Linked DNA regions of Homo sapiens. The protein of the gene in region 2 interacts with the protein of the main gene of each other region in a pairwise test. Each region holds a gene or a part of one and is shown on either strand. Other genes may lie near its edges. The genes, in order: HUNK, IFT81, TRAF3IP1 and EXOC1.

Evidence for each region.
Region 1: the proteins of IFT81 (region 2) and HUNK interact in a two-hybrid assay, tested with the Homo sapiens proteins (one large-scale study listed by BioGRID and IntAct).
Region 3: the proteins of IFT81 (region 2) and TRAF3IP1 interact in a two-hybrid assay, tested with the Homo sapiens proteins (one large-scale study listed by IntAct).
Region 4: the proteins of IFT81 (region 2) and EXOC1 interact in a two-hybrid assay, tested with the Homo sapiens proteins (one large-scale study listed by IntAct).

What each region holds. Positions count from the first base shown.
Region 1 is NC_000021.9:31,920,169-31,927,940, forward strand, and holds part of HUNK (hormonally up-regulated neu tumor-associated kinase), read left to right. Parts: intron 1-4,299; coding exon 4,300-4,592; intron 4,593-7,772.
Region 2 is NC_000012.12:110,134,947-110,142,718, forward strand, and holds part of IFT81 (intraflagellar transport protein 81 homolog), read left to right. Parts: intron 1-1; coding exon 2-67; intron 68-380; coding exon 381-491; intron 492-1,829; coding exon 1,830-1,914; intron 1,915-7,772. UniProt on the Homo sapiens protein: Component of the intraflagellar transport (IFT) complex B: together with IFT74, forms a tubulin-binding module that specifically mediates transport of tubulin within the cilium. Binds tubulin via its CH (calponin-homology)-like region.
Region 3 is NC_000002.12:238,389,442-238,397,213, forward strand, and holds part of TRAF3IP1 (TRAF3-interacting protein 1), read left to right. Parts: intron 1-7,772.
Region 4 is NC_000004.12:55,872,793-55,880,564, forward strand, and holds part of EXOC1 (exocyst complex component 1), read left to right. Parts: coding exon of another isoform or gene 1-16; intron 17-5,124; coding exon 5,125-5,274; intron 5,275-7,772.

The DNA.
Region 1 (7,772 bases), on a different chromosome or scaffold from region 2:
GCTTATTTGTGTGAAAACTCCTTCTTTCTCTATTTTATAAGGACACTTATGAGGACATTTAGGGCCTACCCAGGTAATCTAGGCTAATCTCATCTCAGAATTCTTCACTTAATAACTTCTGCAAAGACCCTTTTTCCAAATAAAGTCACATGATCCAGAGATTAGGCCATTATTCAACCTGGTACAGGCAATTGAAGAACTCAATAAGGTATCTTAACTATAATTGTGTACTCTGTTAAAAAGGCAGATTGTATTACTGCTGGGCCTTTAGACTTGTTTGTTTACAGTACTTGTAAGAATTTCATTGCCAGAGGGTGTAATTTTTTAGATACTGCCACACGGAGTGGAGCAAAGACAATGCCTAATTGTACTTTTCAGCATTCTTTTTTCTCCACCTCCCCAAGAGGATGGATATGAAATATGTGTGTGTCTATGTGTTTTTGGAGGGTAACAGTTAACAAAGCTGTTAGTTTAGCATCCCTTGAACTACTTGGGGCCAGACACAGCCAGAGTGTAACTTTACCTCCTGGGGGCTGAGAGCATCAGCCCGAGCTGACTTGAGGTAGTGCAGGCCCCATGCTGTGAGGTGTGGATGGCAGGGGCTCTTCTAGCCTGTCTGGTCCCCTTGGGGGCTGATTGACTCTTTGTTACTCCCATCTTTGGATTAAGGGCCTGAACCTCCCTATTAAAATGAGACTCTGGGCTGGGCACGGTGGCTCATTCCTATAATCCCCGCACTTGGGGAGGCCAAGGTGGGCGGATCACTTGAGGCCAGGAGTTTGAGACTAGCCTGGCCAACATGGCCAAACCCTGTCTCTACTAAAAATACAAAAATTAGCTGGATGTGGTGGCGGGTGCCTGTAATCCCAGCTACTCAGGAGGCTGAGGCAGGAGAATTGCTTGAACCCGGGAGGCAGAGGTTGCAGGGAGCCGCCAAGATTGTGCCACTGCATTCCAGCCTGGGCCACAGAGCGAGATTCCATCTCAAAAAAAAAAAAAAAAAAAAAAAAAAAAGAAGGAGACACTGCTCTATAGAGGAGATAATACATTATGCTGTTTATAGCCATCTTTGCTTTGGTGATTCCATTGGTTAGTCACTATTAGTCACTTGCTGTTTATGAAGCGCTGTGTGTCGTGAAGGGGGAGTGGTCCCTGCATTAAGCCATGACTTACATCTTACTGCAGATGCTGTTGTATAGGGACGTAGGGAAGGAAGGTGCGGGGGAGTCTCTCTGGTAGGGAGGTTAGCCTCTGAAGGACCTGGGGTTGGGGGCTTGAGTGGGGGAAGGGGGTGGCTGGAGTACCTGGAGAGTGATAGAATGCATGTCCCAGGGAGTGACAAGACATGCCAGGAGGGAGAGCTGGGAGGAGTTGGGACCGGGTGGTGGTGGGGCTGATGGAGAAGATGCTTGGGTGCTCCCATAGGCAGCAGTGAGACCTCAAGAGCTTCTGCAAGAAATCAGAGTTCTAGACCCACTGATTTGGAGGCAGAGTGTAGAATGAATTCAAGAGGCCAGGAGGAGCCTCAAGAAGAGGTGACATCCATGCCTTAGTTCACCCTGGGGGTGGCCAGACTTTTATTGATTCGTTCACTATTTTGTTTAATTTAAAGTTTGCCTTTAGTTTGGACTTTTTCCCTTTTTTGTTTTCTTTTTGTTTTTTAAGGTTTTCTTCAGCTTTATTGAGGTTTAACTGACAGATAACCGCGTGTGCTTATAGTATGCAGGTTATGATAAGTGAGCATGTTGTGAAATGGTTACCATGGTCAAGCTCATGGACATGTCCATTACCTGACAGGGTTATCAGTTTTGTGTGTGTCTTGAGAACATTAAAAAATCTCTCAGCAATTTTCTTTCTTTTTTTTTGAGATGGAGTTTTGTTCTTGTTGCCCAGGCTGGAGTGCAATGGCACAATCTCTGCTCACTGCAACCTCTACCTCCCAGGTTCAAGCGATTCTCCTGCCTCAGCCTCCTGAGTAGCTGGGATTCCAGGCGTCCACCACCACACCCAGCTAATTTTTATATTTTTAGTAGAGACAGGGTTTCGCCATGTTGGCCAGACTGGTCTCGAACCCCTGACCTCAAGTGATCCACCCGCCTTGGCCTCCCAAAGTGCTGGGATTACAGGCACAAGCCACCGTGCCCAGCCTCTTAGCAGTTTTCTTTCTTTTTTTTTGAGACGGAGTTTTGTTCTTGTTGCCCAGTCTGGAGTGCAATGGCACAATCTTGGCTCACTGCAACTTCTACCTCCTGGGTTCAAGCGATTCTCCTGCCTAAGCCTCCCGAGTAGCTGGGATTCCAGGCATCCACCACCACGCCCATCTAATTTTTGTGTTTTTAGTAGAGACAGGGTTTCACCATGTTGGCCGGGCTGGTCTTGAACTCCTGACCTCAAGTAATTCACCCTCCTCGGCCTCCCAAAGTGTTGGGATTACAGGCACGAGCCACCACGCCCGGCCTCTTAGCAGTTTTCAAGTGTGCAATACATTATTGTTAAGCCTGGTCACCATGCTGTACATTGGATCTCAGACTTCTGTTTTTTTCTTTATCATGAACTATGTCCACAAAATAATATTTGAGCCCCTCACTGAAAACATGTATTCATCTGTATTTATTTACTTATTATTTATTTCTGTACTTGTACCTCTGTGTATGGCATATTGCATATAATGCATATTGAGTGCGTTGTGAAACAGGTACAAAATGTAATTACAAAAAAGAGAAATAACAAGAAATGGAAGGTCCACTGACTTCATCCTGCACCCGGAGGCTCCATAGCTGTGTATGAAGGTGTTCCTGGGATGCTCATGTCTCAGTTCATGACAGGGCATCTGGGCACTGGGGCAGTGGTTGGAATGAACCAGGCGGGTGGTGTAGGGGAACAGAGAGGAAGGACAGGTGGCGAGACAGCTGGAAGAAGACATTGACATCATGTGTTGACGTCAGTGGCTGATCACATTAGAGAGGGGAGTGAAGAAAAAAGAAGGAACAGGGCAGCCGGCGTGGTGACTCACGCCTTTGACGCCGGTGCTTTGGGAGGCTGACAAGGAGAATCACTGGAAGCCAGGAGTTCAAGACCAGCCTGGGCCACATGGGGAGATCGGTCTCTACAAAAAGAAAAAAATTAGCCAGCCGTGGTGGTGTGTGCTTATAGTCCCAGCTCCTGGGAGGCTGAGGTGGGAGGATCACTTAAGCCCAGGAGTTTGAGGCTTCAGTGAGCCATGATTGCACCATGTACTCCAGCCTGGGCAACAGAGAGACTCTGTCAAGAAGGAAAGAAAGAGAAAAAGAGAGAGATAGAAGAAGAAAGAAAGGAAGGAAGGAAAGAGGAAGGGGAGGGAGAGAGGGAAGGAGGGAGGAAGGGAGGGAGGAAGGAAGGAAGGAAAGAAGGAAGGAAGGAAGGAAGCGAGGGAGGGAGGGAGGGAGGGAGGGAAGGGAAGGAAAAGGGTGAATACAATGGAGAGGTGACTTCCCCTAAAGGAAAGAGGACTGGGGACAGATGCGGATTTGGGTGGAATAGACAATCTTCCCTTCCCTCTGTTCCTCCATCCTTCCTTCTGTTCTTCCCTCCCTCCCACCGTACCTCTTATGACAAGTTGATTGTAGGGGCAATGGCCCAGGAGGAGCTTCCTGAGGGTAGTAGAAATGTGATCCTGAGTAACAACAAAGGTTGGGTCCTGACAGTGGGGGCCAAGTTTCCCTAGGAGGCAATTCATCAAGGGAAGGAGGTAGACCCTGAGGCTTGAGGGTGTGCACAGGGCAGGGCGGAGCGGGGGCGGGCAAGGCTAGGGGTGCTGCATCTTTGGGCAGTGTCCCCCAACCATGCCTTGGAACTAAGATTGGGGGAAGATTTAGCTGTTTCTGAAGTGGCTGGGGGTCCTCAGACCTGGAGGGAGATGATGGTGAGTCCTGAGGGGGACTGGGACAAGCCCTTTGCTGGAAGAGAAATTGTTATTTCATCTTCCCATCCTGTAGAAAAATAAATTTGACATTAATCCTGCACTGTGCCTTCCAGACAGCCATTCAGGTTTTCTTAGGTAAATTCCATTGTCTTCCTTAATAATTGGACCTTTTGATTTTTCCTAATGTTGTACCTATATGTGTGTGTGTGTGTGTGTTTGTGTGGTATATGCATAAATATAAATGTGTATATATATATTTTCTGTTGATGCTGTTTTAGGTAAGGTGTTTCTCCTCTGCAGAGACATAGCTAGCATTTTTCTTGGGTTCCTGTGAGTAGCCAAGGCATCGCTATTGTCTGTAATGTCTGATAACAGGCATGTTCTTGTTTTCTCCTTAGGTGGCCATAAAAGTCATTGATAAGAAGAGAGCCAAAAAGGACACCTATGTCACCAAAAACCTGCGGCGAGAGGGTCAGATCCAGCAGATGATCCGCCACCCCAATATCACTCAGCTCCTTGATATTTTAGAAACGGAAAACAGCTACTACCTGGTCATGGAGCTGTGCCCTGGGGGCAACCTGATGCACAAGATCTATGAGAAGAAGCGGCTGGAGGAGTCCGAAGCCCGCAGATACATCCGACAGCTCATCTCTGCCGTAGAGCACCTGCACCGGGCCGGGGTGGTCCACAGGTAAGGGCCAGGCCACGCTGGTGATCGCTGACTGTGTGCTCCGTGGGTGGCACTGGGCTGTGGCACCCTCTGAGCCTCTGAGAAAGGCTGAGCAATTGCAGCCTGTTTTACAATTTGTCTATATTTTAATTTTATTTATTTGTTTATTTTTTTGAGACGGAGTTTTGTTCTTGTTGCCCAGGCTGGAGTGCAATGGCGCAGTCATGGCTCACTGCAACCTCCGCCTTGTGGGTTCAAGCGATTTTCCTGCCTCAGCCACCCAAGTAGCTGGGATTACAGGCACCTGCCACAATGCCTGGCTAACTTTGTTGTATTTTTAGTAGAGACGGGGTTTCACCATGTTGGCCAGGCTGGGAATTTTTCTGTATTTTTATTCCATGGAATTGTTTTGTGAATTGGGTTAATGCCAGTGTGAGGGTTAAAAGAGTAGAATCTGAAGCCAGAGTGACTGGGCTTGCAACCTGGCTCTGCCCTGTAACAGTTATGTGACCCTGGGCAAGTTACTTAACCTCTCTGAGCCTTGGTCTCTTAATCTGTAAAATGGGAATAATAATAACACTTCTCTCTCAGTTGGAGTAAAGGTCAATGAGTTAATATATGGGAAGAGCTTGGGACAGTGTTTGTTACCTAGTAGGTATCAGGTAAGTGTTAGCTGCTTTTCTTCTTGTTTGCATAGTCATGAGACCAGTTGTTTAGGTGCCTGAAAGAGCCAGTGTTAAAATGGCATGAGATTCGTGCTAGGGATGATGGTGCTTTCATTGTCTTTGCTTTACACATAGTAGACACTCAATAGCAGTTTTATTCAATGAAATTGAATCACCATTCGAATTTTGAACTTGCCCTTGAAATCAAGGAGTGTTTTCCACAAACCAAACCAGTCTTGCAAATAGTTAGGAAAATCAAGCTTGTTTTTAATATCCTGTTGTTTCCTAGGAAGGGGCTCTACAAAGAAAGTGAATGGAAACAGCGTTCTTGGCAATGTTGCCATTGGTAGTGGGTGCCTGCTTTTAGTACTGTATGAAAATAAAATCAAACAAATTTAAAGAAATAAAAGCTCCCTCTTTTCCTCCAAGGGAGTGTTGGCTTCACCAATAAATGCATGGTTCTTCCTTTGTGGAATTATGATCAATAATTACTCTGGGTTATTGAGAACAACCAGAAATATTTTTTTTTTTTTTTGAGACTGAGTCTCGCTTTGTCGCCCAGGCTGGAGTGCAATGGCGCAATCTTGGCTCACTGCAACCACTTCCCAGGTTCAAGCAATTCTCCTGTGTCACCCACCCTAGTAGCTGGGATTACAGGCATGTGCCACAACGCCCGGCTAATTTTTTATTTTTAGTAGAGATGGGCTTTCTCCATGTTGGTCAGGCTGGTCTTGAACTCCTGACCTCAGGTGATCCGCCCTCCTCGGCCTCCCGAAGTGCTGGGATTACAGGCGTGAGCCACCACGCCCGGCATAGAAATCATTTTTAATTGGTGCTTATTTTAAAAAGCAAGATTGAGGCATGACATATTTATGTGTGTGTATATATATAAACATGCACACACGTGTGCACATGTATGTTTAAATATTTTTAAATTAATAAATTTATATACTATAAAAGTCACCATTTAAAAGTGTATAATCTAGTGTTTTTTAGTGTATTCACAGAGTTGTGCAACCATCACCACCTTCTAATTTTAGAATATTTTTATTACCCCCCGCAAAAGAAACCCTGTACCCATTACCAGTCACTCCCCATTTCCCTCTTCCCCCAGCCCTGGCAACTACTAATTTACTTTCCGTGTCTATGGATTTGCCTATTCTGGCCATTTCATATAAATGGAATTATATAATACCCGGTCTTTTGTGATTGCTTTCTGTCATGTAGCATTATGTTTTTCAGGTTTGTCTAAGTTATAGCATGTGTCAGTGTCTCCTTCCTTTTTATGACTGCATAATACTCCATGTATGGATATACCACAATTGGCTGATCCATTTGAGTTGTTCCCACACTTTGGCTAGTAATACTGCTATGAGCGCTGTTTTCACTTCTCAGAAAACTCCACTCTTAGGAGTGGAATTGCTGGGTCATATGTCAGCTTTCTTTATCCTTTTGAGGAAATATATATTTTAAAAAAATTCAACATTTAATGATAAATCTAATTTTAATTTTAATAATGATAATCTAGCTCTATTTGAAGGCCATTATTCTTTCTTTCTTTCCTTTTTCTTTCTTTCTTCCTTTCTTTCTTTCTCTCTCTCTCTTTCTTTTTTCTTTCTTATTTCTTTATTTCTTTTTTGTTTTTTGTTTTTTTGAGATGGAGTCTCACTCTGTCGCCCAGACTGGAGTGCAGTGGCACAATCTCGGCTCACTGCAACTTCCGCCTTCCGGGTTCAAGAGATTCTACTGCCTCAGCTTCCCAAGTTGCTGGGATTACAGGCACGTGCCATCATGCCTAACTATTTTTTGTATTTTTAGTAGAGATGGGGTTTCACCATGTTGCCCAGGCTGGTCTCAAACTCCTGACCTCAAATGATCCACCCTCCTCAGCCACACCCAAAGTGCTGGGATTACAGGTGTGAGCCGCCGTGCCCAGCCATGAAAGCCATTTATTTTCAGGCCGGGCGCAGTGCTCACGCCTGCAATTCCAGCACTTTGGGAGGCTGAGGCAGGCAGATCACGAGGTCAGGAGATCAAGACCATCCTGGCTAACACAGTGAAACCCCGTCTCTACTAAAAATACAAAAAAATTAGCTGGGCATGGTGGCAGGTGCCTGTAGTGCCAGCTACTCTGGAGGCTGAGGCAGGAGAATGGCATGAACCAAGAAGGCAGAGCTTGCAGTGAGCCGAGATCACGCCACTGCACTCCAGCCTGGACAACAGAGCGAGACTTGTCTGGAAAAAAAAAAAAAGCCATTTATTTTCTGATCAGTGATGAAAGCAGCTCCAGGCCTTTACTTAATAGAACTTAGACTTCCAAGGTGGAGAGAGCTGCCTCCTTACTAACGGGATTGGTGCCGTGGGATGCTCTGCCCTCTCATGTCTAAACCCAGGGGAGGACCATTGTCCAGGCCTTTTCTAGAGCCAGCCTTGGGTAGGCACCATTCAGGCCAATCATTTCCGCCTCACCAAGGTGAGAGCACCTCTTCACATACGTATTCTTAGTCATGCATGTTGTCATGAGATCACCCTTCAT
Region 2 (7,772 bases):
GGATATCAGTGCAATGGAAGAAGAAAAGGATCAGCTCATTAAGAGAGTTGAACATTTGAAGAAAAGGGTAAGGCAGAATTAGTACTGTAAGACTTTGGCCCCAAGTCCCAAGGACTTGCAAAGATTTAGGAATGCAAATAAAGATTCAGCCAAGCATGAGTGTACATCTGAGGATGGACTCAAATAACATTGACGAAAAGGGAATCTCTCTAGACAGTAGCCCAGCACTTTCAAGGACCTGGAGCCTAGAGCTTTACTGTCATCTCTAGGGAGTACTGTTTACCAAAAGGAAATGATAAGTGGATGTCTGAGTCACATGACATGCTAATTTTTTTCTTCAAACCTGACAGTAACATGTACTACTTATTCCCTTACTGTAGGTTGAGACAGCTCAGAATCATCAATGGATGCTTAAAATAGCAAGGCAACTTCGAGTTGAAAAAGAGAGAGAAGAATATCTTGCACAACAGAAACAGGAACAAAAGAATCAGGTATCCACATAAAAGTTTATATTCTCAGTATGAAGGAAATAGTTCCTTCTCATAATCCAAATGTAAAGAAAAGAGTTTTAAAATTGTAGACGTTCACGTTCCTTTTGCTAACATAATGGAATACTCTTTTAATTAAGATAAATATTTCAGGCCGGGTGCAGTGGCTAACACCTGTAATCCCAGCACTTTGGGAGGCTGAGGCGGGCGAATCAGGAGGTCAGGAGTTCAAGACCAGCCTGGCCAGCACAGTGAAACCCTGTCTGTACTAAAAATATAAAAATTAGCTGGGCATGGTGGCACATGCCTGTAGTCCCAGCTACTCCAGAGGCTGAGGCAGGAGAATCACTTGAACCCAGGAAGTGGAGGTTGAGGTGAGCTGAGATCACGCCACCACACTCCAGCTTAGGCAACAGAGTGAGACTTTGTCTGAAAAAAAAAAAAAAAAAAAGATAAATATTTTGTGGCAACAACAATACCACTTTTTGGGTTTTATACTCTGAATTGTATCTATACACTGTCTTTTGGCCTATGCTTACCTCGTGTTGTTCCAACATTACAGAAGAGTCATTGTAATGTTAACAGTAAGATTAACTGCTAATAAAACTTCTAGAATCTCTACAGGATGCTTTTAGATTCCAGGGCTATGAGACCATTCTTTTTATTCCAGTGATCACAGTACCCTCTGCAGTTTACTACAATGGCAAATAAGTCATGAAAAGGCTCAAAATCACCTACACTCCATGTTTTTAAACTTTGCCTTAAAGAAAAATAATTTGCTAAGAAATTATTACTTTTACTTATTAAAAATCTATTTTAAAATCTGAGTAGACTTATACATTAAAATATATTTCACATAAGCTTCATTTACTACTAAATCAGCAGTTTAAATGTTTGATTTTGCTGGCACTTGACTTGGCATCGAAGTAGTTTCACTGCAGCAGTAAGCTGCATCGCCTAAGCCCTGAATGGTTACTTGGCGTTGGTTTGTGATTCTGAAACATCACTATATCAATGTTAACATTACTTGGCCTTAAGAAAACCATGTATAACAAGAAAAATCTGGTGTGTGTGTTTCTTTGATAAGTATTTTTCCTTAAACCGCAAATTCAGTAAATAACTAAAGAAAAATTTGTGAAAACTTCCTTAAAAAATGTATGTGAAAAGGTATTGAGAGAACCAGTTACATTTTGGGTTTAATATGGGAATTTTCCGAGTTCTTATTATTTGTTCCTTTTATATCATAAGAATTATATGGAACTTGTATTTTTCATTGCTTGCCTAAGTGAGAGGTAAGCTTCAGTAGACTAAGCAAGTAATCTATTTAATTGTATTTTAAAGCTATTTCATGCAGTGCAAAGATTGCAAAGAGTACAAAACCAGCTGAAAAGCATGCGCCAAGCTGCAGCAGATGCAAAGCCTGAAAGTAAGTGGAAATTATTATATGGTATAGATGATTAGAAAATATTAATTTAAATCACGATCTTCCTAAAAAATCAATTTGTGAGAATTAGTTATCATCAAGTGATGTCTCAGCATTTTGGAACATCATTTCCTAGCTGGAGAAGGAGAGCCCTGATAAAGACATCCCTGGGTTTTCACCAGATGTTTTTAAAAATTCCTAACCAGATGGCCGGGTGCAGTGGCTCATGCCTATAATCCCAGCACTTTGGGAGCCCGAGGTGGCGAGAGGTCAGGAGTTCGAGACCAGCCTAGCCAACATGGCGAAACCCCATCTCTACTAAACATACAAAAATTAGCAGAGCGTGGTGGTGGGTGCCTGTAATCCCAGCTACTCAGGGGGCTGAGGCAGGAGAATCACTTGAATCTGGGAGGCAGAGGTTGCAGTGAGCCGAGACCGCGCCACTGCAGCCCAGCCTGGGCGACAGAGCGAGACTCCATCTTAACAGCAACAACAAACAATTCCTAACCAGTTTTTCACATCAGAGAGTGAAGATAATGAAAACAACTGTGGAGGGAGGCTGTCTGGTTTGTGCTTGTATAAAGGACTTAGCATGGCTGGGCGTGGTAGCTCACACTTATAATCCCAGCACTTTAGGAGGCTGAGGCGGGTGGATCACTTGAGGTCAGGAGTTCGAGACCAACCTGGCCAACATGGTGAAACCCTGTTTCTACTAAAAGTACAAAAAAATTAGCTGGGCATGATGTCATGTGCCTATAATCTCAGCTACTCAGGATGCTGCGGCAGGAGAATTGCTTGAACCTAGAAGGCAGAGGTTGCAGTGAGCCGAGATCGCGCCATTGTACTGCAGCCTGGGCGACAGACTGAGACTCTGTCTCAAGAAAAATAAATAAATAAATAAATAAATAAAGGACTTAGCATGGACGTTGTGAAAATGATGGTTGGAAAAATTATGAATCATTGTTTTAAAGCCAGGGCTATAAAGAAAAAGAATAGAATGCTGGATCCTTAAAACCGAGTGTTTTTCATATTTTGGTTTGTAGAATAACAGTGCTAATGACGTAGGTATCTCTGGCTCTGTTCTTACATTAGCTTAACACAGAGGATAAACTGTCCTAACAGCCCAGATTACACCACCAGATCCATCCTAGGCATTTTACAAAGCATTTTTGCTTGTCAGAAGAAAGACCACGCAAACTGAAAGAGCAGTGGAAAGCTCTCATTTGTACTGGAGAACTATCCCAATGTAAATAGCTGATAGAGGGTTAATTCATCTTTCTGTAGTAATCTATGAAATTCTACAAGAGCAGGGAGCAGGAGGTTAAGGAGTTCCTACTTCGTTGACATCTTTCTGGGAAGTGGAAAGTGATCTGTTCACAGCCTAGGAAAAGGGTAGATTAAACATATTTAATTGATCCAGGTATTTAGTTTAATAAGCTCTAACTTTTCAGTAACAAAAAAGGCTTACAAAAGCTAATGTTTACTTAAATAACAAAAAGTACTTTTAGTATGACAGTATAATTTGTCTTTTTGCAGAGTAACAGCTATATTATAAAACATTCACTGAGGTTAATCATTTTTTTTTTTTTTTTGAGATGGAGTTCCACTCTTGTTGCCCAGGCTGGAGTGCAGTGGTGCAATCTTAGCTCACCGCAGCCTCCGCCTCCCGGGTTCAAGCGATTCTCCTGCCTCAGCCTCTGGAGTAGCTGGGATTACAGGTGTGTGCCACCACACCCAGCTAATTTTTGTGTTTTTAGTAGAGACGGGGTTTCTCCATGTTGGTCAGGCTGGTCTTGAACTCCCGACCTCAGGTGATCCACCCGCCTCAGCCTCCCAAAGTGTTAGGATTATAGGCGTAAGCCACTGGGCCCGGCTGAGGCTAATCATTGTTATACTCCACACATTTGTGAGATTTATTACATAAAAGAAGACACTCATTTGATTATAGTAGGATCAGTGAGATGTTTTCAAAGGGTTTTTAATATAAAAGTTTGCTGACATCTTAGTGACCTTGTATTTAATTTACCCAGGATTTTGAAAGATAATGCTTTTAAAACTTTTCATAGAAACATATGACTATTTTTCAAGGTCTAAGTTAAATTTTTTAAGAGAGTAATTTAAAATTTGATGGAAACTTGGTTTTTATGTTTTAAACAGCTTTATTGAGGTAAAATCGACATATAATAAACCACACAAACCCTGGTGCAGTGGTTCACACCTGTAATCCCAACATTTTAGGAGGCAAAGGCGAGCAGATCACTTGATCCCAGGAGTTCAAGACCAGCCTGGACAACATGGCAAAACCCTGTCTCTACAAAAAAATACAAAAATTAGCCAGGTGTGGTGGTGCACGCTTGTAGTCCAGCTACTTTGGGAGGCTGAGGTGGGAGGATCACTTGAGCTCAGGAGGTGGAAGTTGCAGTGAACTGAGATTGTGCCACTGCACTCCAGCCTGGGCAACAGAGGGAGACTCTGTCTCAAAAAAAAAAAAAAAAAAAGAAAAGGAAAAAAGAAAAGAAAAAGCTGCATGTATTTGGTATGGTTCAGCGACTCACACCTATAATCATACTCCTTTGGGAGGCCAAGGTAAGAGGATCACTTGAGCCCAGGAGTTTGAGACCAGCCTGGGCAACATAGCAAGAATCTATCTCTACAAAAAATAAAAAATTATTTGGGAGGCCAAGGCGGGTGGATCACAAGGTCAGGAGAGCGAGACCATCCTGGCTAACATGGTGAAACCCTGTCTCTACTAAAAAAATATAAAAAATTAGCCGGGCATGGTGGCGGGTGCCTGTAGTCCCAGCTACTTAGGAGGCTGAGGCAGGAGAATGGCATGAACCCGGGAGGCAGAGCTTGCAGTGAGCTGAGATCACGCCACTGCACTCCAGCCTGGGCGACAGAGTGAGACTCCATCTCAAAATAAACACATACATACATACATACAATAAAATAAAATAAAATAAATAAAATAAAATAAAATAAAATAAAATAAATAAAATAAAATAAAATATAAAATAAAATAAAATAAAATAAAATAAAATAAAATAAAAAATAAAAAATTAGCTGGGCATGGTGGTACATGCCGATAGTCCTAGCTGTCCAGGAGCCTGAGGCAGGAAGATCACTTGAGCCCAAGAGTTTGAGGTTAAAGTGAGCTATGATTGTGCCACTGCACTCCAGCCTAGGTGACAGAGTAAGACTTTGTCTCAATAAATAAATAAGTAGCACATATTTAAAATGTATTAAATTTTTTTTTTTAATTTTACTTTAAGTTTTGGGTTACATGTGCTGAATATGCAGGTTTGCTACATAAGTATACATGTGCCATGGTGGTTTGCTGCACCTATCAACCTGTCATCTAGGTTTTAAGCTCCGCACACATTAAGTATTTGTCTGAATGCTCTTCCCCTTTCCTCCCATGCCCTAAAGTGTATCCTTGATTACTTTTGACATACGCATACACTGGTGAAACCATCAGCTTTTAATCAAGATCACAAACCTATCCATCACCCCAGACATTTCCACTGACCCTTTTTAATGTCTCACTCTTGCCCCCTTCTGCCTTTCTGTCCCTCCCCAGGCAACCATGGATTTGCTTTCTGTCACTATAAATCAGTTTATATTTGCTAGAATTAGAAACTTTTTTTTAAATAGAGAAAATATTATTTGAGAATTTTAAATCTTTAAAAACATTTTAGTCTTTGATTCCATGCATCTCTAATTACATGGGGTACACTTAAGAACCTGAGGATGGAAAAGCTGGTCATCTAACAGACAAAGAAGTCAGGATGTAGATTTAATCGAAAACCACATAGGAATGACTGACTAATTACAGTGTGATTTATTTATTTTTATTGTTTATTTACTTATTTATTTATTTTTTGAGATGGAGTTTCACTCCTGTTGCCCAGGCTGGAGTGCAATGGCGTGATCTTGGCTCACTGCAACCTCCGCCTCCCAGGTTCAAGCCATTCTCCTGCCTCAGCCTCCCAAGTAGCTGGGATTACAGGCATATGCCACCACGCCCGGCTAATTTTGTATATTTTTTTAGTAGAGACGGGGTTTCTCCATGTTGGTCAAGCTGGTCTCAAACTCCTGACCTCAGGTGATCCGCCCGCCTCAGCCTCCCAAAGTGCTGGGATTACAGGCATGAGCCACCACGCCTGGCCTATTTTTTATTTTCTGAGACGGAGTTTTGCTCTTGTTGCCCAGGCTAGAGTGCAATGGCATGATCTTGGCTCACCGCAACCTCTGCCTCCCGGGTTCAAACGAATCTCCTACCTCAAGCATCTCTACAGCCTCCAGAGTAGCTGGGATTACAGGCATGGGTCACCATGCCCGGCTAATTTTTTGTATATTTAGTAGAGATGGGGTTTCTCCATGTTGGTCAGGCTGGTCTCAAACTCCCAACCTCAGGTGATTCGCCTGCCTTGGCCTCTCAAAGTGCTGGGATTACAGGTGTGAGACACCACGCCCAGCCTACAGTGTGATTTATTAAACACTTTCTCTTCTCTTCCTTTCTCTAATCCTGAAAAAAGAAGGAATAGTGAAGTAATGAATGGAAAACTTAGAATTTGCAGTTAATAAAATTTTACATGTTAATATATGGTTAGCACGATGGAACTAAAAATAGTTTTAAGGCTTTGGGCCAGATGTATTATGCTTTGGGCCAGATGTATTATGCAATCTATTACACAGATTACTTAAACCAGAAAGCCCATGTGTTAAAAATTTGAGCCAGGCCAGACGAAGTGGCTCACGCATGTAATCCCAGCACTTTGGGAGGCCCAGGCAGGCGGATCACTTGAGGTCAGGAGTTGCAGACCAGCCTGGCCTTAACATGGTGAAACCCTGTCTCTACTAAAAATACAAAAAATTAGCCGAGCTGGTAGTGTGCGACTAATTCCAGCTACTCAGGAGGCTGAGGCAGGAGAATCGCTTGAACCCAGGAGGCAGACAGAGGATGCAGTGAACCCAGAATGCACCACTGCACTCCAGCCTGAGTGACAGAGCAAGATTTCATCTAAAACAAAAAACAAAAAACATTCAAGTCAGAATTTGTAAATGTGTAAATGGAAAGATATGAAATAAACTTTGTAAATCTCTCTAGGCTGGGAATTTAAAACAAGATGGTTATTCACTGAAAATCTGTGTGTATAGTTGTCCAACTGCAAAAATAAGAAAACTAAAATCTTAAAAATATAAATTGCCACTTAACTGTAAACTAATAATACTTTACAAAATAAAAAATACCAAAACATGGAAAACTTAAAACATTTATGTGTAGGTAGATACTTTGTTTCTTTTTTCTTTTGTTTTTTTGAGACAGAGTCTCCCTCTATCCCCCAGGCTGGAGTGCAGTGATGGTGACACGATCTTGGCTCAGTGCATCCTCTTCCTCCCAGGTTCAAGCGATCCTTGTTCCTCAGCCTCCCAAGTAGCTGAGACTACAGGCATGTGCCACCATGCCCGGCTAATTTTTGTATTGTTAGTAGAGACAGGGTTTTGCCATGTTGCCCAGGCTGCTCTCGAACTCTAGACCTAGGTGATCCACCCACCTCGGCCTCCCAAAGTGCTGGAATTACAGGCGTGAGCCACTGCACCTGGCCTGTTACTCTTTTTTAGATTTTAACTTGTGGTGCTTTTAGTAATGTCTTCATTGGCTTGAAGCTGACAAATGATAATGAATTATCATTTATGAACTGTTATAATAGAAATATAAATTGTTCTGGGTACAGTGTAATCCCAGAACTTTGAGAGGCTGGGATCACACCTGTAATCCCAGCACTTTGAGAGGCTGAGGCAGGTGACTGCTCAAGCCCAGGAGTTAGAGACCAGCCTGGGCAACATGGCAAAACCTC
Region 3 (7,772 bases), on a different chromosome or scaffold from region 2:
AGATATTTTAAAAATAATACTTTTGGCCGGGTGCAGTGGCTCACATCTGTAATCCCAGCACTTTGGGAGGCCAAGGTGGGTAGATCACTTGAGGTCAGGAGTTCAAGACCAGCCTGACCAACATGGTGAAACCCCATCTCTACTAAAAATACAGAAATTAGCCAGATGTGGTAGCAGGCACCTGTAATCTCAACTACTTGGGAGGCTGAGGCAGAAGAATCTCTTGAACCTGGGAGGTGGAGGTTGCAATGAGCTGAGATTGCACCACTGTACTCCAGCCTGGGTGACAGAGTGAGACTCCATCTCAAATAATAATAATAATAATAATAATAATAATAGTAATAATTCTCTTGAAGGATTGCAGTTGAAATTCAAATAAATCTCTAAGGTCAATAATGTGTATTTATATGACTTATAATCAATAACTATAAATTTAAAAATCACTAGAAGTGCAAATGCCCATGTTTCTGAGGACAAGTGTGTGTGTGGTAAAATGCAAATAAAATAGTCCCAGAAATAACTGTTCGCTTGAGAAATCTTGGAAGCATTTTCTGAAAAGTGTGTGCGCACGTGAGCACATGAAGTGGCCCAACGCTGAGCTGCCTTGCCAGAGGCCTTCCTGCCAGAAGGCAGCTGAGTAAACAGTCTTTAGCCCGCAGGAAAAGGGAGGCCAGCCAGGTAGGAGGCAGGAGGGGACAAGAGGGGTGACTTTGTGTCCCCTTGAAACACACGTGGGCTGCCACCTCTCTGTTTGCCTAACTTGGAGAAACTGCCTTTAGACACTGGATCCATGGTGAGGGTGCCACAAAAAGGTGCCGTGGGTGGTTCTGCGATGTTCACAGCAGACTTCCTCTGAGCTCAGGATCACCAACCTTTCAGCGGAGAAAAGAGCTTTGAGATGAATTTCATAGCTGTGGGTTATTTATATTCTTAAAATGGAGATGGAGAAGGAAGTGTGTCGATGAGGAAGGTAAATTACATTTTAATGAAAGAACTTGCCTGGACATGACAGCTTGTTAGGTGGTGCTGATAATATCTATAAATACTTTTTTCACTGTGCGCTAAAGTATTCCAAACATGCCTGGCTAAGAATGTTTCATAGCCAACAAGTTGACAGGAGGTAAAATAACTGTATCAGTGCACAGGAAAAAGCACCCATGCCTTGTCCTGGGGGCACTTGCAACTTGCTTCTTTCTGGGGAATAAATTTACGATAATGGTTAACATCTACTTGAGGGTTTACTATGTGTGAGGCACTGAACTGCTTACTTTATATTATCCCATTTAATGTTACCTGAAGGATAAATATTATTATTTCCATTTTCTTGTGAGGAAGCTGAGGTACAGAGAGGTCATTCCAAGGTCATAAAGTTAGGAGGTGGTGAGGCTGGGTTGTACCAGCCCCTGGAACCACAAGGCACTGACTGCGGGTCCTGCTGCCCCCGAATCCTCCTATGGTCTAGGTGGTTTTAGGTCATATTTTGTGTAATGACAGATTTCCTTTCCTTTTCTTTTCTTTTTTCTTTTTTGAGAAAAAAGGGTTTCGCTCTGTTGCCCAGGCTGGAGTACAGTGGCACAGTCTTGGCTCACTGCAACCTTCTCCTCCTGGGCTCAGGCAATCCTCCCTGCTTAGCCTCCTGAGGAGCTGGGACTACAGGTGTGCACCACCACGCCTTGGTAATTTTTGTATTTTTTTTGTAGAGGCAGGGTTTCACCATGTTGGCCAGGCTGGTCTCAAATTTCTGGCCTCAAGTGATCTGCCCACCTCAGCCTCCCAAATTGCTGGGATTACCGGCATGAGCCAACACACCCAGCCATGACAGATTTTCAATAATTAACACAGCAGGGGCAGTCATCTAATTCCTGTGTGGGGGTAATAGATCCTCAAACTACTATTGGATTAAAAGTCTTTAAAAACAAGGTTGTTTTTATCTGGAAAATTGTTGATATATCTACATGAGCAACATATAACTCGAGGTCTGTCATCAGAGAGGTGTGCTTTTTAAAGCAAATAATCACGGCTTGATGCGTTCACGCTGCCCCTGCTGTGTTAAATGAAAGCTTGAAAATTGCCAGAGTGTTGGTGTTTTGCAGCAATGTATTCCAGTGCCTTTATGCTAATAATAAAACCTGTCCTGACTATCACAATCCCAGCCCAAGTGTACTTATTTTAAAGTCTTAATCTCTTAAACATAAATTATAAGCTTTAAGATTAGTGTTCCAAATTCTGCTTGGTCCTGTGCAATAGAAATATGAGGAGTTTGGCCAGATTACCTCTTAGTGTCTTTTTCTACATTGTAACTCTCCAATTTTGTAAGATATTTGTTTATATTAGTCTCCTACCTTAAGGTCCATGCCCTAAACATTTTTATATTAGAGTTAACACGATGCCAAATGCACAGGAATTACTTGATAGTCATTATGAATGGGTTTTAATAGAAGTTTGAATTTCTTAACTAAGTCAATGAGACATTTACTAATTTGTGTATAATAAAGACAATATATTTTTCTCTTGGGAAGTAGCTTATTTTATTGAATTCATTTCAGTCATTTAGCGTCTTAATTTAAAGGCATTTTATATAGCCTTTTAGAAATTAAACGTTTGATATAACCATAGATTCATATCCAGTTATAAGAAATAATAGACGCCCAGGTGTGGTGGCACGTGCCTGTAGCCCCAGCTACTTTGGCAGGCTGAGGCAGGAGAATCGCTTGAGCCCAGGAGTTTGCGTTCAGCCTGGGCAACACAGTGAAACCCTGTAAAGAAAAAATAGTAGAAAAAGAAATAATAGAGATATACTGTATGCCTTTTGCCCACTTTCCCCCAGTGATAACATCTTACAGAACCATAGTACATTGTCAACCAGGATATTGACAATGAAACAGGATCCAGAACATTTGTATCACCTCAAAGATCCCTCTTGTTGCCTTTTTATAGCCACACCCTCTTCCCCCACCTCGAACTCTTCCTTCACCCCCAGCTACCACCATCAGTTCTCCATTTCTGTAACTTTGTCTTTCCAGAATCTTGTGTAAAAGGAATCCTACAGCATGTAACCTCTTGGGATTCACTTTTCTTATTCCTAATCCTCTGAGGGCCATCCAGTTTGTTCCATGGATTAGCAGTCTGTTCCTTTTTTTTTTTTCTTGAGACGGAGTTTTGCTCTTGTTGCCCAGGCTGGAGTGCAATGGCGTGATCTCGGCTCACTGCAACCTCGCCCCCCCACCCGGGTTCAAGGGATTCTTCTGCCTCAGCCTCCCGAGTAGCTGGGATTACAGGCATGCGCCACCGCGCCCAGCTAACTTTGTATTTTTAGTATAGATGGGGTTTTGCCATGTTGGTCAGGCTGGTCTCGAACTCCTGACCTCAGGTGATCTGCCTGCCTCAGCCTCCCAAAGTGCTGGGATTGCAGGCATGAGCCACCATGCCTGGCCAGTCTGTTCCTTTTTATTGGTAGATAGTTTTCCCTGGTGTGGATGCACCACAGTTTAGTTAACCAATTACCTATCGAAGGACACGGGGGTTGTTTCCAGTTTGTGGCTACTTTGATTAAAGCATCCGCATGCATTTGTATACAGGTTTTTCTATAAACATGAATTTTCATTTGTTTGGATAAGTGTCCAGGAGTACAACTGTTGGTTGATACTGTAGTTGCATGTTTAGTTTTATAGGAAACTGCCAAACTGTGTTCCAGAGTGGCCATATCTTTTTACATTCCTGTCAGCAATGAGTGATCCAGTTTTCCCTAACCAGCATTTGGTGTTGTCACTATTTTTTATTTTAGCCATTCTGATTGTTGTGTGGTGATGGCTCATTGTGGTTTGAATTCGCATTTCCCTAATGCCTAATGATTTCAAACATATTTTCATGTGTGTGTTGGCCATCCTTATATCTTCTTCAGTGAAATGTGTCTTTTGCCCATTTTCTAATTGAATTATTTGCTTTCTTGCTGTTGTGTTTTAAGAGTTCTTTGCATATTCTAGCTATAAGTCCTTTATTGGATGTGTGATTTGCAGTTGTTTTTGCTCATTCTGTGACTTACCTTTGCGGCTTCTTCCCAGGGTCTTTCGCAGAGCAAACATTTGAAATTTTTGTCATGCTTTTGGTGTCAAGTCTTCGAACTCTTTGCCTAGTCCTAGATCCCAAAGACTTTTTCCTCCTGTGTTTTTTATCTTAAAGTTTTATAGATTATATTTAAATCCATAGTCCATTTCGAGTTAATTTTTGTTTAAGATATGAGATTAGGTCAACGTTTTGTTTGTTTTTTGGCTTATGGATGTCCACTTAACCCAGTGCCAAATGGTGCAAAGCTCTCTCTGCCACTAAATTGCTTTTGTACCTTTGTCAAAGATTGCTTGGGCATATGGACATATTCGTATGGATCTACTTTTGGATTCTGTGTTCTGTTCATTTGATCTATGTCCCTCTGTCAATACTGCACTGTCTTGATTACTGTAATTGTATAAAAAGACTTGAAGCCTACGCGGTGGCTCACACCTGTAATCCCAGCACTTTGGGAGGCCGAGATGGGAGGATCACCTTAGCTCAGGAGTTTGACACCAACCTGGCCAACATGGTGAAATCCCATGTCTACTAAAACAAAAATTAGCTGGGCATGCTGGTGTGCGCCTGTGATCCCAGCTACTTGGGAGGCCGAGGCAGGAGAATCGCTTGAATCTGGGAGGCAGAGGTTGCAATGAGCCAAGATCACACAACTGCACTCCAGCCTGGGCGACAGAGTGAGACTCCGTTTCAAAAAAAAGCCTTGAAATTGGGTAGACTGGTTATTTCTGTCTTTATTCTTTTTCTGAAAATGTTTTAGCTATTGTAGTTCCTTTGCCTTTCTGTATACATTTTAGGATAATCTTGTCTATACAAAAACATTGGCTGCAAGTTTGGTAGGATTTGCATTAAACATGCGTATCGGTTTGGGGAAAATTCATGTCTTTACTGTGTCCTGTCTTCCATTCCATGGACACAGTGTGTCTTCTCATTTATTTAGATTTCCTTTGATTTCTTTCATCTGCATTGTTTCGTTTTCCATTTCCAAGTCCTATACATGTTTTGTTAGATTTACAACTAAGGATAGTCTTCTATTGAACAATTGTCAATGGCATTGTATTTTTAATTGCAGTGTCCATGTTTTCATTGCTCATACATAGAAATATAGTTGATTTTCATATGCTCATCTTGTATACTACAACCTTGCTGAACTCACTTATTAGTTGTATGAGTTTTACGTTTTACTTAAAGTCCCAATTATTTAACACTTTCTATGTGCCAGGCATTATGCTAAAGCTTTCTTGTACTTGTCCAAGCCAGTAAATGGTGGAACTAGGATCTTCATACATAAATCATTTATCCACTTCATTAGTTCATTTCACAAATTCTTAGGCAGAGCTTATGTGAATCACAGTGAATCTAGGCACAAGGTCCTGCCCTCCTGAGCCCACAGTCTGAAACTAGCAGAAGTAATGCAAGTGAATATGTAGCTATGATACGTTCAAATTAAATAAGTTGATTTGTTACAACTGAGTGCATTTACTAGCTCATTCTGTAAGTGGGTGAGGCAAGGAAGGGCCCCTTACCGGTCTGGAGTGGGTGGGGGGGTGTCCAGGGAGGGCTTCCTAAAGAAACAGTGTTGCAGGGCATGATGGCTTACATCTGTAATCCCAGCGCTTTGGGAGGGCAAGGCAGGAGGATCACTTGAGCCCAGGAGTTTGAGAGTAGCCTGGGCAACATAGTGAGACCCTGGCTGTAAAGAAAGAGAGAGAGAAGAAAGAAAGGGAAGAAGATAACCATCTGATCTTTGACAAACCTGACAAAAACAAGCAATGGGGAAATGTTTCCCTATTTAATAAATGGTGCTGGGAAAACTGGCTAGCCATATGTAGAAAGCTGAAATTGGATCCCTTCCTTACACCTTATACAAAAATCAATTCAAAATGGATTAAAGACTACATGTTAGACCTAAAACCATAAAAACCCTAGAAGAAAACCTAGGCAATACCATTCAGGACATAGACATGGGCAAGGACTTCATGTCTAAAACACCAAAAGCAATGGCAACAAAAGCCAAAATTGACAAATGGGATCTAATTAAACTAAAGAGCTTCTGCACAGCAAAAGAAACTACCATCAGGGTGAACAGGCAACCTACAAAATTAGAGAAAATTTTCGCAACCTTCTCATCTGACAAAGGGCTAATATCCAGAATCTACAATGAACTCAAACAAATTTACAAAAAAAAAACAACCCCATCAAAAAGTGGGCAAAGGATATGAACACACACTTCTCAAAAGAAGACATTTACGCAGCCAAAAAACACATGAAAAAATGCTTATCATCACTGGCCATCAGAGATATGCAAATCAAAACCACAATGAGATACCATCTCACACCAGTTAGAATGGCGATCATTAAAAAATCAGGAAACAACAGGTGCTGGAGAGGATGTGGAGAAATAGGAACACTTTTACACTGTTGGTGGGACTGTAAACTAGTTCAACCATTGGGGAAGTCAGTGTGGCGATTCCTCAGGGATCTAGAACTAGAAATACCATTTGACCCAGCCATCCCATTACTGGGTATATACCCAAAGGATTATAAATCATGCTGCTATAAAGATACATGCACACGTATGTTTATTGCGGCACTATTCACAATAGCAAAGACTTGGAACCAACCCAAATGTCCAACAACGATAGACTGGATTAAGAAAATGTGGCATATATACACCATGGAATACTATGCAGCCATTAAAAATGATGAGTTCATGTCCTTTGTAGGGACATGGATGAAACTAGAAACCATCATTCTCAGCAAACTGTCGCAAGGACAAAAAACCAAACACTGCATGTTCTCACTCATAGGTGGGAATTGAACAATGAGAACACATGGACACAGGAAGGGGAACATCACAATCCGGGGCCTGTTGTGGGGTGGGGGGAGGGGGGAGGGATAGCATTAGGAGATATACCTAATGTTAAATGACGAGTTAATGGGTGCAGCACACCAACATGGCACATGTATACATATGTAACAAACCTGCACATTGTGTACATGTACCCTAAAACTTAAAGTATAATAATAATAAAAAAATTAAAAAAAAAAAGGAAAGAAGGAGAAAGAACTGATGTTAATTTTCCCAAGCTTATTGATTCTTATCAACTCACATCAGTTTCTGACATTCAGAGATGTCTGTGATCAAAGCTCATATGAAGAGAATTCTAAATGTTGCATGGCAAAGAACCCAAGAACTCCTGGCCCAAACCGCATGCAGCTCCCCACTCGTCTCTGCGTCCTCCTCACCTCCTTCACCTGCTGCTGTCTCAACTTGACCCCTTCCATCTGGCCCCTGACCCCTGGACTCTGTGGCCTCCCTGAGCGGCCAGCACAGTCACGTCTAAGTCGACCTGACCATCTGCCTGCTGGGTGCTGCTGGCTGCTGCTGGCTGCTGCTGGCGCTGGCTGCCCTGCACATTCTCCATGCCCTCCTTTCCATGGCACCAGTTTCTGCCTCTCCTTTGGGTTTCTTTCCCCTTGCCCCCTGGCAAGCTGGGTTTTGAAGTCATTTGGGATGGAAGGTGGGCCATTTGAAGAGCTGTAGGGTCAGGCCCTCATTCTGCCAGTCCATTTGGGAAAAATCTTCCATGTCACTAAGCTCTTGTAACAATAGCTACAAAAGTTGCTTGTTAGTTGGGAACTGAAATCTGCCTGTATAGAGATTTGCCCTCAGATGGATTTCCAGGTAAAGACAGACCCCCATCCCC
Region 4 (7,772 bases), on a different chromosome or scaffold from region 2:
CTTTCTTTCGGTTCCTGTGAGTACATCAAATTTGGCTCAAGCTTCTCTGATTCTGTTTTTTTTTTTCTATAAAGTTTGCTAAACTTAACAGCAGCCGAATCTTTACAGATTATAACTTACTGATTTAAGCTACCTGTTAACCACATTCGTAGCAGTTTTTAAATGTCCCATAGTAGAGACTATTTTGGCCAAAAAAGCATTTAATCTCATTCTGCTTGCTTTTCTTTCTGTCATTTTTTCACTCCATTTAGTAATAAATAGTAATATTACTCCTTCATTTAGTAATAGTAGTAATATTAATCCTTCATTTATTTAGTATTGCCAGGTGATTGAGGTACATACCAGACATTAACTTGGGATAAATGAGAGACCAATCCTGTCCTCTAGTAGTTCACAGTCTAGGGAAGCGAGACAAACAAATAATATACTCAAGAGGGATAAATGTTATGACAGCGAGACTGTGGGAGTGTAAAGGAAGACCACCTAACTAAAAGCACGGTAGGGGGGAATCAGAGAGATTCCCTTAACATTCCACTTGACTGAAAAGTGTCGAGAAAAAAGTAAGCTTAAATGTCACATAGGAAATACTAATTCATGTTTTTGTTAGGTACTTACTTCAATAACATCTATTTCTATACAATTCCTTAGTTTTTAAAAATGACACTGTTGACAATTATGTTATCCACATTTGTTAGATAGTATTGAAAATACCAGCCAGTAAACAATAGTCTTTTCTGTACCCTTAACTGTTTGTTGTAACATGCAGTTATTTATGATTTTGCTTCTTGCCTTGTAAACTAATGGCCTCGTTTAAAATGAATGCTTCCCATTTCTGAAAAGCTGATATGTGTTATTACATGTGAGTGATGCATGTTAAAAATCAGAACGCTGCGACAACCTGGGGTGTGCCAAAAACGGTGGAAGAAGATATCCCACACATAAGAAAGATTTTCTTAGTGTTGCATTCAGTGCATCAGGTCACCTAGCAAAATTGTTGAGAAACATGGGTATTTCTATTCCTGGTAGGGAGACAAGCTGGGAAAATTGATTAAAATAATATGGTACACCTCTTTGGCAATCACAGAATTTTCATTGTATGCTTATTATGTACTCACTGTCTACCATATATAAGAATAAGCAATAGTTCCTACCCTCAAGATGCTTGTAAGAAGGAATTAAAACTAATGTACTTACTCTTTGTAAGGAGTTAAGACTAATGTACATTAGCAATGTATGTAATAAATTGCTAATTGTAGAACTGTGGACTGTAAGTGCTAAAAAGGTTTAATCAAAAGTGAGTTTATTGAGAATTTAAGGAGTGAGATATGGAAGGAATTGCAGATAAGGTAGGACTTGAACGAGTCCATGCAATACAGTTTATAGCAAATGTATAGTTACAACATTTACAAATATTGTACTGAAGAATCCAGTGAAAATAATCTATTCACAATATAACAGTAATTTCAAAGCATTGATTCTCAGTCTTTTTAAAATTCACAAATTAGTAAAATTAAAAGAAATAAAATTCGGAGACTGACCAAATCACCAATTTTTTTATTTTACCAAATAAAGACCTTTAAAAAGAAATACTATTATCCACTTTCATTATCTTTTCATTTTAAAAATGACATTTTGGCACTAAAAGAATAAGAATTTCCTTTCCGATTTTAAAAATTAATACATTTACCCTTATGAAGGACTCACTTCTTTCATTGTACTTTTTCTTATTGCTATAGGCCAGGAAAAACATCTTGCATTTGGGAATGACTGATCCAGAGCATGCTATCTGTAATGCAACTTTCCTATTAATACTTCTGTGTTATCTATACTTAAGTGAAACTTGAAGTGTATTTTAATATAATAATCACTGTAATATAATATGAGAGTAATGTTACATAAAGAGTAGTTAGCTTCTTTTAGATCTTTCAGATCTTACACACTCAACTTCCCCTGAAATTATAGGCTCTTGCCCATAATTTTTACATTTACTAGGGATTTCTGTATCTAGAAAGATCAAGAATGAGAATCTGGTCAGTTTACACTAATTAGGATTATGATATTGAAAACAGTCAAATTAAGGCTAATGAAATTGAGGAAATATTTGCATAAAGAATATGTCCTTTAAAAAATTGTTTTGGTTGTTTTTTGAAAGATTTATTTTGATAACTACTCTCTGCCTTTTGTTTCCCCCTTTGGTTCTACAGAGACCTCATGATTCTATCTACTTTTGCCTTTAGCAACATGATGAGACTGATTATGTACATAACTTAGAGAAAATGAAAATAAACTGAAATGCACTGAACTAAAAGTACAACCAGGAAAAAACTGAAGTTGTGGAACTTTTTACCATATGCTTAAGTTTAGAAATTTTTCTCTCAACATACATATACAGAAACAAGCTATAATAAAATAAAACCTGTATTGCAGACCACCAGCATTCAATTTCTTTTACAAAAATTGTTTCCTTAAGCATATTTGTAAACACGGATTGATGATCTCTGGTTAAAAGCTTAGAAAGACTTGTGATTAAGATCTATTTTTGTGAGGTTTGTTGGAACTTTGCTCAGATTTTTTTTTTAAGAAAAGAATAAGTAAGTATGCCATAACAGAAAGAAGGAGTTCCAAATCTTGAAAATTTATTCAAATTTTGACCCCAATGTATCATTTCTTTAAAAAAGTCACTATAGCAAAGTGCTTAAGAGTGCAGACACTAGAGCCAAACTTCCTGGGTTCAAAATCCTGACTCTCCTACCTCCTAGCTGGGTTACCTTGAACAAGTTAATTGACATTTGTGCCTGAGTAAACAGTAGTAGAAGAACATAGACAATAATTTTGAGTCTTGAATCATTGAGAAAAATTAATGAGGAAGATTGTTTTGGATAACGATACATTGTTACTAATAAAAACTATTTGGTAAACATTTGTATGATATAAGTCTGTCAAATATTCTTCCCCTTTAATCAGCGTGACCAATTAAGGCACATAGTTTAGGCCAGGCGCAGTGGCTCACACCTGTAATTCCAGCACTTTGGGAGGCTGAAGTGGGCCAATAACTTGAGCCCAGGAGTTTGGGGGCAACCTGGGCAGCATAGTAAGACTCCATCTCTATTAATAAAAATAAATTTTTAAAAAATAAAACACAATTTGGAGACATTTATAGACCTAAAACTATAATATCTATATCTGGCTAGTATCTAATACATGTGATGCTGTAGAATCCTGATTATCCTTCTGGCATCTTGGTTAGAAAACATTTCTGTAATAGAATGTTTATATTGACCTTTGGCAACATAGAAATAGATAATAGTCCAATGGTAATGCCTGTGTATTTTACTTAATATTATTGATTTTGTTCATCTTTATTGTTAGCCCTTACAGAAAAGATATGGTAGCCCAGGCATTCTAAAAATACAGAATTGTTCCATTCTTCAACACTTTAGCTCTTAGTCCTCATTGATTCTTTTGGAAGATGTGATTGTTTTATATTCAGGTAGCCACCCAGAAAAGAATATCCACATAGGTCTACGCTCCGTTATCCAGAATTCTGGGGGTCAGGAGTGTTTTTAGAATGTTTCAGATTTTAGAAAAGCAATACAGTATATATACTGTATATTATATAATCACTCCAAGCACATGTTTTTGCAACAAAAAATATGAATAGTCACTCTAAGCACTATAAATAGGCCCATGTCAGTTCAGGTCACATTTTACCATCAAAATTGTTTTGGTGCCAAGCTTAGTCTGAGTTTTCAGAGCTTTTTGGCTGTCAGAATTACAGAAAGGGATTATGGACCTATTAATATACCTTGTGTATAACATCTGTGGTAGCTGTGAACTTCTGTTGCCCCTGTGTTCTAGTTCTTGTTATTTTGAACTGGTCAGTTTCATTTTGTGATATTTTTCTGCCATCTCTAGTTCAGTTTCCCAAGTTAACCTAAGTAGATATCAGTAAGATGAATCTGAGAAGTGTATTGGTTGTTTTCTACCATTTTATATGTAATTTCTGTATAATGGGTCCTTTTTTCTTTTTAATTTCCATTTTAAATTGGGATATATTCTCACATGAAGAAAATTTTCCAACAGACTGATTTGAAAACATTTATGAAGAAGGGACATGGATAATGATGTGGGTTTTTGTACTTGGCATGTCTTATACTCCCATCTTTCTTTCTCAGTTACCAAGGAACTCCTCATTTCCTCTAGGCCAGAAATGTTTCCTTCTGAATAGTCTGTATTTAAAAGAAAATTTTTTAAAATTCATAACCACTAGGTTATTTTGTGTATATAGTACAGTATATAAATTAGGTGAAAGAAATCCCTTTTAACTTAAAAGAATTTAAATTCAGGACGCTTATTTAGCTAATGTGTACCAACTAGTATGATACACATTCATAATTAGCTTTAGGTAACCTTATCAGGAAATGAGTTAACTAGCTCCAAAACTCTAGCAGTCTGTGTAATTTTAATACAGTTTTCACAAAATGCTGACAAATAACTTCTGGCTATCTAGGCAAATTAGATTGAGTGAAAATTACATCAAATAAATCTGTCTTGGTTTGCCTTTTGCTTGTTGTTGGGAAATTGTATTTTCAATTTGAATCTGCTCCAAGACAGAAGTAAGACTCAGATGACCAAGGTTCCAATTCCAAGCTCTAAGACTTTATATTCTACTTTTTTTTATCTGTTGTTTTAAATATTACAAACTCTAATGGGAATACCATAAATGTAGACTGTTTTGAATGATTTCTCTATTTGTGTTTCTTAATTCAAGCTATATCAAGAAGGTCATTTGCTTGGTAAATTGTGAAATATGGTATGAGAGAGACAAGCTTCATTAAAACGTTCCATCTTCATTCCTTTAAAAGACGGAATGGGTAGTTGATTTATCAGAGTGCCATTCTTGCGTATTTATGATTATCTTATGGTGGTAATGTTCATTTGATATACACAGGATATAAAAGTTGTGTAAGTATTTGGTTTTTATTTTTCTGTGTTCTATTCTTAATTATTTTTCTATGTCTTATTGGTTTGGCTTGGCCACATTTTGGTCATTGTTTAGACTTTTTATTGTAACGTTTCTTTGTACTGTTGATTACATTTATTTACTTATTTTACTCACTTTAGGGTCATGATCAGAGTTCGACTCTTGCCCAACACTCTGTTGAACTGACTTTACCCAATCATCATCCATTTCATAGAGATTTGCTCCGATATGCCAAGCTGATGGAGTGGCTAAAGAGTACAGATTATGGAAAATATGAAGGACTAACAAAGGTATGGATTTGACGTCATTTACTCACTGAGAATAGAGCATTATCTTTTAGAATTAAGAGGTCATGTGTTCAGTTCCCCAAGTTTAAAATACTGTAGTACATTCTTAGCAAAGCAGAAAATGAGTCAGTGCTCTTTACCAGTGATAACATTCATTTTATTAACTTGGATAAAGGAGAGCTAAATTTTAAACTTCAGTATGGAAAAATATTAAGCCATACTGTAGCCTAAAGCATCAATTTAGTTAAATGCTATGCTTATTTCCTGAGTTTCTTTATGTACAGTATAGAAACAAGGAAGTATGAGCATTGCAAGTGAGGTATTTGCCCTCTGTGGATTTATAATCTGTTCTGTTAAGGAAATATAAAGTGCCTCTTTATTAAGCAAGCATTCCACTATTCCAGGCACCTGGGGCCTACCTAATAAGCATCTACTCTAATGCGCTTTAGATCTGACTGGGAAGAATCATACATAAAACAATCAGCAAAAAATTAAACACTAAACTGGAAATGAATTTTAAGCATGTGGCAGTATAGACAAGGAAAATCTCTGTCTCGAGACCATGGGGGAAACTTCATGGACAATATCAGACTTCAGTTGATTTTAAATAATGAGTGCAATTAAATAAACCAGAAATAAGAGAAAGGGCATTCCAGGGATGGGGAGAGAGATGTGCAGACAAAGGTGGGAAAAATACACGCTTGTCCTAGAACAATGAGGTTAAGGGTGACCGAAGCAGAAATTTCCTATTCTAGGGCAGTGAGAAATTATGTTGAAAAAGATGAGCTATGGGACCTACCAGCATTCCTCAAGCATGGGAAAAGATTAAATGAGGGAAATTTAATTAAGAACCTAAAGTAATAATTCAGACGAAATGAAGTGTTGAGCCAGGAAGATGGTGTTGGGAATAGATAGAGAATATAAACCAAAAGAGAGACTCCAACAGCAGAAGGAACAGGTTGATGCCAAACTTGCTGGGCTTGGAGTTTAGAACAGTAGTATATACTGCTGACTAAAATTCTGCACTTGGGGAAGAGCAAAGTCATTTATTCATATATTCAATCAGTAAATGAATTGAGCACCTATTACGTGCTAACACTTGTAAGCACTTAGAGATACAGCATTGAAGGAAACAGGCAAATACTTGCCTTCTCAGAGTACGTATTCTAGAGGAGACAGACAGACAAAAAAGTTAATTATATAGTATGTTAAAAGGTGCTGCTGAGTGTTCTAGAGAAAATAAAGCAGGGAATGCCAGGACTGGGAGAAGGGCGTGGGATAAGGATTTCCAGAGGAGAGCTTTCCAGGCACAGTGCAAGTGCCCTAAGGCAGAGCGTTCCTATTGTGCTTGCAGAGCAGGGAGGCCAGTGTGGTAGGAGCACTGTGAGCCAGGGGCAGACCCTGGTGGGGGCAGGGTGGATCTGGAAGGGATTGTGGACCATGCAAAGATTTGTCTTTTACTGTGCATGACATTGCAGGGTAGGGAGGGGAGATGGTAGACTTTGAGCCATGGAATGACATGGCCTGACTTAGATTTAATAGCCATTGTAGCAGGAAGCCATAGGGACAGTCCTTTTCTGGCATTTATGCTGTTGATCTTTAGTTTAGGAATTGGACATCATATCCCTTTTTAAAAAAATAGAGCTAACGAATTCCCACCTATCTAGTCAAATACGTAAATAGCTAATAGTATTCTAGATAGTCCTGGCTGAAGATCCATTTTATTAAAATTCTGAAATACTCTGAGAAACATCTAAAATCTTTTATCTGTAAGTTTTTGTGAATATGAAGTTTAAAAATAAGAAATCTAATGCATAAGCTGTGTTAATAATTAATAATAATTATATGGACAATATGGCCCTAAAAGATGTTCTAGAATTGGAAATAATGATATGTTTTGTCTCTGTGGAATGAGAATATTGGAATTGCTAATATAAAAGCAACTTCTATCTGGTATCTTAGAGTCATGCTTCAGAAGAAAGCAGAAGGGTTAGGTAGAGATTTATGAAAAGTGTGATAGTAAGAAGGAGGCAAATTATGTATTCCTATCCATGCATTTGTGTTTACGTATTTGACAGTAGGACATTTTTATGTATCAGTTTTCATGTATTTTCTCTTTGAAGTGCCTTTGCCCATTTAAAGTAAAATCTGGCTCTTGGACTTCTAAACTGAGATAATAAGAAAAGGGATATAAACCTTAGTAAAATAAATAATATTTTTAAATTATAATTTTAAAAATGCTTTTCAAAAAAAAAAATCTCCTGAGGTGCTTATATACTTCTTGTCTGGCTAGCTATTTTAGGTGAGATTATTTTAGTTCCTCAGAATTAGTATATTAAGCATTATACACCTCCACTGTTGTGTTATATTTTCTTTTGTCTTGTTTTCATTCAACAGAATTCAGATTTGGAGATATCTTAAGGAAAAAATTTACATTACTGGAATTCTTTGCCTTTTGAAGTTTTAGGAGGATTAATATTCTGAATAATTAAACATAAATT